3 linked regions of the Homo sapiens genome follow. The protein of the gene in region 2 purifies or fractionates together with the protein of the main gene of each other region. This does not show direct contact. Each region holds a gene or a part of one and is shown on either strand. Other genes may lie near its edges.

Region 1 (4,183 bases), on a different chromosome or scaffold from region 2:
TGAGAAAGCGAAAGAACCTGGAGGAATGTAGAGATGAGTGAGCCCCAGGTCACAGGGACAGGATGTGGCTGGGAAAATGGGCATGTCCAGAACAAAGAGAGGTGCCTGGGTTGATTCTATCTGAAGATAAACAGGGGAAGGGCTCTAAGAAAAAAACTTCATCTTACGATGAGATATTAAATGAAAATTTTTGAATGCAATTTAAAAACTGTGGAAAGTACAATGGTCATGGTTGTGCTTTTGCAAATCGCCAGTCCCTGGGGTCAGGAAGGGAGCAGGCAGCAGTGGCATGGACAGGCTGAGGCCGGCCTCGGGGAGCCACGGAGGGGAGAAGGGCTGTCACCTGGGGGTGATGCAGGAAAAGTCGATGAAGAGAGAGGGAAAGATGAGAAAAATTTAGAGTGAAATCACCAGGACTGGGTGACATGGTGCATCCAGGAGGATGGAGAAGAGGATGAGTGTTCAGAGTCTGCCCTTTGTGACTGTCACGTTCCCCGCCAAGAAGCTGCCGAGTGAAGTGTGGGCTCGTCTGGGGAAAAGTGCCGGGTTCAGCCTTGGTTGTGTTGGGTTTGAATTCTCATTGTGGAAATCGGTGTGTGGAGGTGATGCCTGCACTCCCAGGGTGACCGCAGCGCTACTCACAGCTGCCAAGACCTGGAAATAACCTGAGTTATATAACCACCACCAAATGAATGGATGAGGAGAATGTGGTGTATATATGCAATGGAATATTATTCAGCCCTAAAAAAGGAAGGACATTCTGTCATTCACAACAGCATGGATGAACCAGAGGACATTATGCTAAGTGAAATAAGCTGGGTACAGAAAGACAAATACCGCATGTGGAATCTAAAAAAGTTCATCTCGGCCGGGTGCAGTGGCTCATACCTGTAATCCCAGCACTTTGTGTGGCCGAGGTGGGTGGATCACCTGAGGTCAGGAGTTCAAGACCAGCCTGGCCAACATGGTGAAACCCCATCTCTACTAAAAACACAAAAATTAGCTGGGCGTGGTGGCATGCACCTGTAATCCCAGCTACTCGAGAGGCTGAGGCAGGAGAATCGCTTGAACTTGAGAAGTTGAGTTTGCGGTGAACCGAGATTGTGCCATTGCACTCCAGCCTGGGTGACAGAGTGAGACTCCATCCCAAAACAAACAAACAAACAAAAAAGGTCATCTCACAGAGTTAGAGATTAGAATGATGCTATTAAAGTCGGGAAATGGGGGGCTTGGGAGAGACACTGATCAAATGGTACAAAGTTTCGGTTAAACAGGAGGAGTAAGTTTTTGAGATCTATTGCATAGCAGGCTGACTATAGTTAATAATAACTTATTATATATTTCAAAATTGCTAAAAGTAGGTTTTAAATGTTCTCATCACAATAAGTATGTGATGTGATTGATATGTTATTTAGCCTTATTTAATCTTTCCACAATGTTTACATACGTTGTAACATCACATCGTGCCCCACAAACATATACAATTATTTGTCGATTAAAAATAAGATTTTTGGCTGGGCACAGTGGCTCATGCCTGTAATCCCAGCACTGTGGGAGGCTGAGGCGGGCGGATCATAAGGTAAGGAGTTCGAGACCAGCCTGGCCAATATGGTGAAACCCCATCTCTTCTAAAAATACAAAAAAAAAAAAAATTAGCCAGGGGTGGTGGTGGGTGCCTGTAATCCCAGCTACTCAGGAGGCCGAGGCAGGAGAATCGCTTGAAACTGGGAGCAGAGGTTGCAGTGAGCCGAGATTATGCCACTGCATTCTAGCCTGGGTGATGGAGTGAGACTCCATCTCAAAAATAAAAATAAAATAAAATATAGGATTTTTGAAAATAAGAAAAGCAAAACATGACAGGTGGAGAATGAAGGAGAGAAAGGGGTGAGGGTTATGCATTTTACATTTGGAATAGTTTGCAATCTAGGGTATATTTAAAGGGATCTCTCCAGGCCCTCTAAGAATCAACATCACTCCCACCCAGCACTGCCTTTGGGGTGACAGAGGGGACTGGGAAGACGGGACGAAGGCATGACTTACCCTCCTGCGTGTGGATGGTCTGGGCCAGGCAGAGCACTGGAAGAGAAGCCCCAGTGAGAAAAATGCCCACTGCCCAGTCTCCTTACAGGGCTGCTGTCAAAAGGGGGCTTGACGGAGCTGGGGGGCATTCAGCATTTCATAACGACCAAGCCAACCCTCCTCGACATCACTGTCTCCATGTAATCCTTCTTGCTGCAAAATGGTTTCAAGATAAATCCCAAAGTCTCCTCTTCCAAAAAGGCTCCTGCTCCCCCAGCCCTTCTTTTTGGTGTTGTTGGAGACGGAGTTTTGTTCTTGTCGCCCACGCTAGAGTGCAGTGGCGCGATCTTAGCTCACTGCAACCTCCACCTCCCGGGTTCAAGCAATTCTCCTGCCTCAGCCTCCCGAGTAGCTGGGATTACAGGTGCCCGCCACCATGCCCGGCTAATTTTTGTATTAGTAGAGATGGAGTTTCACCACGTTGGCCAGGCTGGTCTCAAACTCCTGACCTCAGGTGATCCACCTGCCTCAGCCTCCCAAAGTGCTAGGATTACAGGTGTGAGCACCGCGCCTGGCCCCCCAGCCCTTCTTAAAGCTGACCTCATCCCCACACCCGGGCCCCTGTTTTTAGGACAAGGTTGTCTCTGATCAGACTTAGGCCCCAGGGAGAGCAGTAGGGCAGTCTTGGGGGGAGGAGGACACTTTCCTCCCCAGAATCTTCTGGACTAGAGTCAGGCTTGAGCAGGGAACTTTCCAGACCTCCCGACCCCCTTTCCAGTCCTTCCCGCTCCCTCCAGGACTCACCTAGGCCCAGGAGAGCAGTGAGGTGTGGAGACATGGCCCCGGTCCCAGAACTCTGCAGCAGACACAAGCAGACAGGATGTGCTGGCCGGGGGCCTCCTGCCCGTGGGGCTTCCACAGCAACTGCCTCACACAAGAGGGAGAGCTTTCTGTTCTGTTCTTTCCACCCTTCCCACTAGTGAGATGAGAGGGAGGGCCTTGGTTTCTGAAAAATGTCGCTTACCCGCATGATCAGATGACCTTAAACTAGTTACCCGATGTGTCAGCCTCTTTCTAAATCTATGGGACAAGACAGAATAAAGGTCGTGCAACCAACTGACTTGGATGTCATCCCAACTCCACACGTTAACGACCACCGCTCTTGGGCAAGATGTTACAAAACTAGAAGTCGACATGTCCTCGTATTTAAAATAAGAGTCATAGAAATCCTTCCCCAAGTTTTTAATATTGTGATCTCTGCTAAAATCTCAGCAAGGTATATAATGCATTAAAAAAGATCCTACAGTGCGCCGGGCGCGGTGGCTCACGCCTGTGATCCCAGCACTTTGGGAGGCTGAAAAATTGTGCACTCACTATAGAGAACAGTGGGGAGGTTCCTCAAAAAACTAAACATAGAGCTACCGTATGGTCCAACAATGCCACTTCTGGGTCTATATTTAAAAGAAACAAATTCAGTATGCAAAGAGCCGTCTGAACTCCCCTGATCACTGCAGCACTATTCGCAATAGCTAAGACGTGAAAATCATCTAAATGTCCATTGATAGAAGAATTGATATAGAAAATGTGGTGCACACACAGGGGAATACTATTCAGCCTTAAACAAGGAAGAAAATTCTGCCATGGGCGACAACACAGACGAAACCTGAGGACATCACGCCAAGCGACGCAGATGCAGAGACCAAGTACTGCATGATGTCACTTACAGGAGATCTGCAAAGTCACCAGAGTCACAACATCACAGCAGGGAATGGTGGTTACGGGGGCTGGGAGGAGGGGGAAATGGGGAGTTATTAACAAACAGGCCTAGAGATCTGCTGCACCACATACGACCCATCGTCAGCAATAACGTCTTGTTCACTTGAAATTTGTTAAGAGGACAGAGCTCATGTTAAGTGTTCTAACAATGATACATAATAATAAATATTATATATAAATAATTATAATTATTACATCTAATAATAATATAATTAATATAATATTATTAGTTAAAATTGTTTATCTATTTTATACAGTCATTACATATATAATTGTTTATATATAATAATACAGCAAATACTATATATATGCAAGTTTATATATAATTGTTAATATATATAAACTATTATAATTATACATATACAATTAACAATTTGTGTGTGTGTGT
Region 2 (3,660 bases):
GTCGAGTTTTCAAATACTATGGAATTAGCCTAGATATCCATCCTTTTGTCCAAGAAAGTGACTTGGAATTTGGTGGCAGAAAAACATTTGAAAGATCATTCAGTTCAACTTCTTTATGTTTGCTGAATAAAACAAGCAAACAAAATTGAGCTTTAGTAATCATCTGTATAGATCATGAAATTAGTAAATAACATATTTTAAGGTCTCTTGGATAACATAATTTTAAAAGAATAATAAGTAAGGCCCGATATAAATATTAATATATTAGAAGGTGTTATATTAGAAATAGTACATTAAAATTAACCCATTTTAAAAAGTGTGCCTATAAAAACACGGCATAAGAAATGAAAAAAGGTTGTAAATGGACATATTATAAATAATTTTATAAATGTATTAACTTGTATATCATTTGAAGAACTTACATAGTAACCAATGGATAAATGAATAAAACCCATGCCCAAGTAATTAAAAGAAGAGGAAAAATAGTTAATATGTGAAAAGGTTTATTCTTGCTGGTCATCAAAAAAATTACAAGTTAAAATGATGTATTATTTCATACATAATATATAAATAATAAAAGTGATTTTCAAATGTTATTTCTTATCGCTGATAAATTTGTGGTAAAATGGTACTTTTATGCATTACTAGGATTCAAATGCCTGTTCAATCTGTTGTGAGCTATGAGACTTTAGAGTAGTCACTAAATCTTCCCACATGAGATAGTGTTAGTATTAAAATAGTGTGCAAATAAATAATTCCAAGAGAATTATTCTCTTAGTAATCATATATAATTATATATAATTATAAATAAATTAATAATAAATAATTTCTAAGAGAATTCTCTTAGAAAAGCAATTTAGTTTCAAGAAGTTTAAAACCTTATATCCTTTGATGACAGAATAATTCCACTCTTAAGAATTTATTTTCAGGACATAATTCAATAGAGAAAAAATGCTTAATACATTATGTATAATTCAAAAATCAGAAATAATTCAAATGTTCAGCAGAAGAGTTCATTTATTTATTGTATGTCAATTCTACCTATCTAAAATTCTAAATTCTACCAACTTTTTAGAGACTAAAATGTAGCTAAAAATACCTTTTAAAGCTATACAAATGTAGAAATTTCTTATGGTATCTTCTTAAAAGAATACAAATCTCTTTATACCATAGTATATGTTTCTGCAAAAGCTATGTCTTCATATAAACAATGATTAGAAGACAACATGGAAAAGCGGAGTGAAGTCAGCATGATGGGTGTGATAGCATTGTGACTGATGATATTTTGAATTCTCTTTAATGTTTAGGTAACATAAAAGCATTAATAGAAAAATTTAAAACACCACATCCGGAATTTAGGAAAATAAAACACTCCCGGGGCAAATGAGTCATACACAAAATACTTTTACCCAATAGATTTGCTTTTGACTTTAGACCTTGTTAATATGGAATGACTGATGTGGAAATCCATTAGTCTTTTAAAGTTCATCAGATGGCCGGGTGCGGCGGCTCAAGCCTGTAATCCCAGCACTTGGGGAGGCTGAGGCGGGCGGATCACCTGAGGTCAGGAGTCCGAGACTAGCCTGACCAACATGGTGAAACCCCATCTCTACTAAAAATACAAAAAAAAATTAGCTGGGCATTGTGGCGTGTGCCTGTAATCCCAGCTACTCGGGAGGCTGAGGCAGGAGAATTGCTTGAATCCAGGAGGCGGAGGTTGCAGTGAGCCGAGATCACGCCACTGCACTCCAGCCTGGGCGACAAGAGCGAGACTCCATCTCAAAATAAATAAATAAATAAATAGATAAAGTTCATCACATATATTGAGTAAATATCTCCCACCCCCAATTTTTACCTCAAGGAGGGCATCGAAATCTTAGCTTTTTGAGGTAAATGGCAAAAATGGAGGCAGGTAATAAAAACATAAAAAGGATTCCACTGAATCATTATTTTAATAAACGTTTCCTCTTTCCTCTTACCGGTTCAGTGTATGAAAACCCCAGACCTTCTGCAGCTGATTTTATCAGCTCAGACTCCAGCTTATGACGTTTCACAAACATTGTTAAATCCTAGAGAAAAAGAAGTAAAGAAAGACATTTTTTATTTAAATAGCAGGTAAGAGATATGATAAATGTTCAGGTGGCAATATTTTCATTAGATAGTCACAAATGAGCTAACAAATATTCAGAACTGCAAGACTTGGCCCCATCTCAACATACTTTCACACGCTAGCATGTATGAATAAAAATGTGCTTCAGGCATAAATAAAGTTTGAAAGAACCGAGTTCAACAACCTTTGCTAAATTGTTAGACATCTTTAAGACCAGTGTCATATTTTTATCAACTCTCCCCCGAACACATGCAGAATCAAGAATTTCTTTTCAGGCCAGGCGCGGTGGCTCACGCCTGTAATCCCAGCACTTTGGGAGGACGAGGCGGGCAGATCACCTGAGGTCGGGAGTTCGAGACCAGCCTGACCAACATGGAGAAACCCCGTCTCTACTAAAAAAAAAATACAAAATTAGCCGGGTGTGGTGGCATGTGCCTGTAATCCCAGCTACTAGGGAGGCTGAGGCAGGAGAATCGCTTGAACCCGGGAGGCGGAGGTTGCGGTGAGCCAAGATTGTGCCATTGCACTCCAGCCTGGGCAACAAGAGCGAAACTCTGTCTTAAAAAAAAAAAAAAAAAAAGAATTTCTTTTCAAAACATTGGTCTCACCTCTCTGGCCTCAATGGATGCCGGGTCAATGCTATCATCCAGCAGACTCTCATAGTAATCCACATTGTCTAGGACATCCTCATCATCTGGATGGCATAGAAGATAGGCTTTGGCACACTCCAGGGCTTTCACATACTCACCAACTGAAAGACAAAGGAGTTGCAGCATTAGAGTCAGCCTAGGTCTGTCCAAAGGATTTTAAAGGGAGGCCATCAACGTGTCTACAAAGGTCAGCATTAAACATGAATAAGAGGGAAGATAAATTGAGGCTCAGCAGAGAAAGCAGAAACAGTCACAGATAAAAGGAAAGACATGATTTCAAGTATTCAAAAGTTATTACCTTTGGTCTGCTTTGGTACTAGTTGTTTTGTGCAAATCGTCAAGTTTCTATCTGAAGATGTTTGTTGACAACTTTTATTATTTAACACATATAAACAGCAGAATTCTATGAGTTAATTCTGATTTTTGTACCGAGTTTGGGTTAAGTAAACATCCTGAAGGTGATCTTTGCAACAGTAATGTACCATTTTATATATAATGTATGAGTAACATAAGTGCTTTTAAAATGTTATTTTTCATTGCTGCAGTTTGTGGTAAACTGGTACTTCAATGCAAAGTCCTTCATAGAGTCCCAGATGTTCTGGAGGAAGCCCCTTAAATCCTTCACTATACAATTATAGCACATCCTACAGTAGCAAACTACTAAAAGGAACTAACAAGGATGTTTCCAATATAAACTTTTCATTATAGAAATATTTAGCTATTACAAGGGAAATTTTAAATGTCTGTATGCCTTGTTTTCAAATAGTTCACAACATTGTATTTCTTCTAATGGAAATTTACAATATACGTATGTGTGTATATATATGTGTGTGTGTGCATGTATGTGTGTATAATAAATACATACACACACACACACACATATATATATACTCTGAGATG
Region 3 (2,522 bases), on a different chromosome or scaffold from region 2:
ATAAGGGTTGGTGACTTGTAACCATTAGTGTAGTAGTTATAGACAGGTGGGCAAAATGTCTGCCGGCAGAAATTTTGTTCTTGTTGCTTAAGGAACAAAACTGGCTGACCCAGAGTGAGGGCAGAGATATCACCAATCTTGAGCCCAGAGTTTTACCTTTCCAATCACAGCTTTGCTTGGATTACACAAGATTGCTTCTAAGGAATAAATAGATGCCTTTATAGTATGTTACCTCAGTGACTTGAGCCACATTGTCCTGATTAAACTAATAGGATGATGGATTCTTAAGAGTAGTATTTTTCAGCTTGGAAAAAATGTTGCCTTGTGATTGACAAAAAAATTGCTTGCCTTTTTAAAATGTAATTCAAGCCATCAAAACAATTTTAAATATTATAACCAAAAACATGTCAAGACAATAAATAGTAACTGCAGAATATTTGTTCAAACTGCATATTTCTCTGTCACCTGCTTCTTTCCCTCCCAGGAGAAAATTACAACTTTGGGGTGATTTTGTCATTTTTCTATCCCTAGTCATCAGCCCTTGACCCTGACTCAGATTGCATGTGGTTTTGTGGGTACCTCTTCACAGTCAACAATGAGTGGTTGGGTCTGTGGGAATAAAGATGCATCACCAATATAGGGACATATCCATGACAACTGTAAAAGCCACCCATCACTTTATTGTCCTACTTTTTTATTAACTTTGAACAATGAAAAGCCTTGAAAGAATGGTTGAGAACAGCAAATTGCTGCTTTCAAATTAATTCAGCCTAAAAATCTATTGATGTTATTTTATTGCGTCGTAAATAAGGAGTAGGTAAAACATTTTGTGCTTTAATAAGTGAGGCACAGCTTAAAAGTTTTAAACAGCAATATAAAAATACAGTACAGTGCATAAATAAATAATATATCTCCACTTCTAGTCGAATTTTGAAACCCTCAGTGTAAATTATAACTTCACTTGAATGGGAGGCACAAGGTACATGTGCTAATGTTCTGTAAATCCAGAAAATCATATCACATAAGATTCAATAAGGAATTAAAGAAATCAAATTAATCACACTTGTGTTAACTAAATAAGAATAGGTCAGATACCTGTTTCCAAGTTATGCTGGGTATATAAAAAGCTTCTCTGCAATCATAGAAAAGTTTGAAAAGGTTCATTGATGAAAGCACCTTGCATTTCAGATGAACTTCAATATTTTGGGGCTTTTTTATATAAGAGCTTTAACAAGTATATATGCACCTGTATATTTGAATAGATATTGATGAAAGGGGCCATACAGGCCTCAGAGTAGTGCACCATCAGAAATATTTTAGGGGATACAGTGTCTTTTAAATTTGAATATTCAAGTATTTAAGTTCTACAAAGTTATATGATACCTCCTGGATGTTTCCTAGAAGTTCTCATATTCATAGTTAGAAACAGGCTTTTTTAAAAAGGAAATGCCGAGTTTCTCAAATCAAATTTCACATAACTTAGAGCTCTATTTCTGTTTTTTTTTTTAATTTTTTTTTTGTTGTTTGTTTTTTGTTGTTTGTTTTTAACATAGCAGGACTTCTTTGGTGATATTTTTTAATATTGGAGAAAACCTTAAAGAGCCTTAAGATTGCTAACTAGAAATTCAAGAGAGGCTTCACATACGTTTTTACGTTGCTGCTCACTTTTCAGGGGGAAGGTTTGTTGGTCTGATAGCTCAAATCTGTATTTCAGAAAATAAAAATTACATTCTTTTCAGCCTACCTCCATATGCATTTTGTAGGGTGGGGTAGAGTTAGAGAATGCTTTTTCTAGCACAAGATTTAGATTAGCTCTGTGTGTACTCACATTGGAGCCACTAGGAATCCTGAGAAAGAGGAGTGGACATACTCAGAGGAGTATAGGCCATTTGACTCGGCATTGGGAAGCTGGAGCCACACCTGGTCATTTTCTGTGAGATCGATGATGGCACTCCCTGAAGCCTGATCCAGGTAGCCTTTGGTGTATTCATCATAGGTGTACATTACAGGGGTGCCATTCTTATACAGGCCTACCCAAACATGAGTCCCTTTCACATGCACGTGGTATGAAAAATAGTATATTCCTGGTATCTGACAAGTAAAGATTCCAGTCCTTGGGTCATAATGCTGTTGCCTGTTATACAAAATTTTATCAAATGGTATGGGAGTTCCTATTGCTGGGTAAGCTTTGGAGAGAATAACAGTAAAAGCAGACACAGGCATTCCTGTTACCCCCTGGTTGGCACTAACAAGAGGGGTCCCAGAAAGACTGGGCCTTTGGCCTGCCTTTATAAAACCCTCAGGCATGACTGCTTGACCTGGTGGGCCTGGAGGCCCAGGGGGCCCTGGAAGACCAGGCTCTCCAGAGTGGCCTCTTGGACCTGGAGGCCCTGGTGGCCCGGTGGGTCCATTGAGGCCCTTAGTTGCTATGCCAGCTGGGCCAGGAGGACCGGGACTTCCTGGATCCCCTTTAGACCCAGGGAATCCTGGAATGCCTGGTGGCCCAATAGGGCCTCTAGTAC

Evidence for each region.
Region 1: the proteins of P3H2 (region 2) and LAIR2 purify together in Homo sapiens (co-immunoprecipitation; one large-scale study listed by IntAct). This does not show direct contact.
Region 3: the proteins of P3H2 (region 2) and COL10A1 purify together in Homo sapiens (co-immunoprecipitation; one large-scale study listed by IntAct). This does not show direct contact.

Annotation. Positions count from the first base shown.
Region 1 is NC_000019.10:54,501,593-54,505,775, reverse strand, and holds the start of LAIR2 (leukocyte-associated immunoglobulin-like receptor 2 isoform a precursor), read right to left. Parts: upstream 2,946-4,183; 5' UTR 2,858-2,945; coding exon 2,824-2,857; intron 2,077-2,823; coding exon 2,041-2,076; intron 1-2,040.
Region 2 is NC_000003.12:189,984,809-189,988,468, forward strand, and holds part of P3H2 (prolyl 3-hydroxylase 2 isoform a precursor), read right to left. Parts: intron 2,862-3,660; coding exon 2,719-2,861; intron 2,070-2,718; coding exon 1,980-2,069; intron 1-1,979. UniProt on the Homo sapiens protein: Prolyl 3-hydroxylase that catalyzes the post-translational formation of 3-hydroxyproline on collagens. Contributes to proline 3-hydroxylation of collagen COL4A1 and COL1A1 in tendons, the eye sclera and in the eye lens capsule.
Region 3 is NC_000006.12:116,118,249-116,120,770, forward strand, and holds the end of COL10A1 (collagen alpha-1(X) chain precursor), read right to left. Parts: coding exon 1,825-2,522; 3' UTR 661-1,824; downstream 1-660.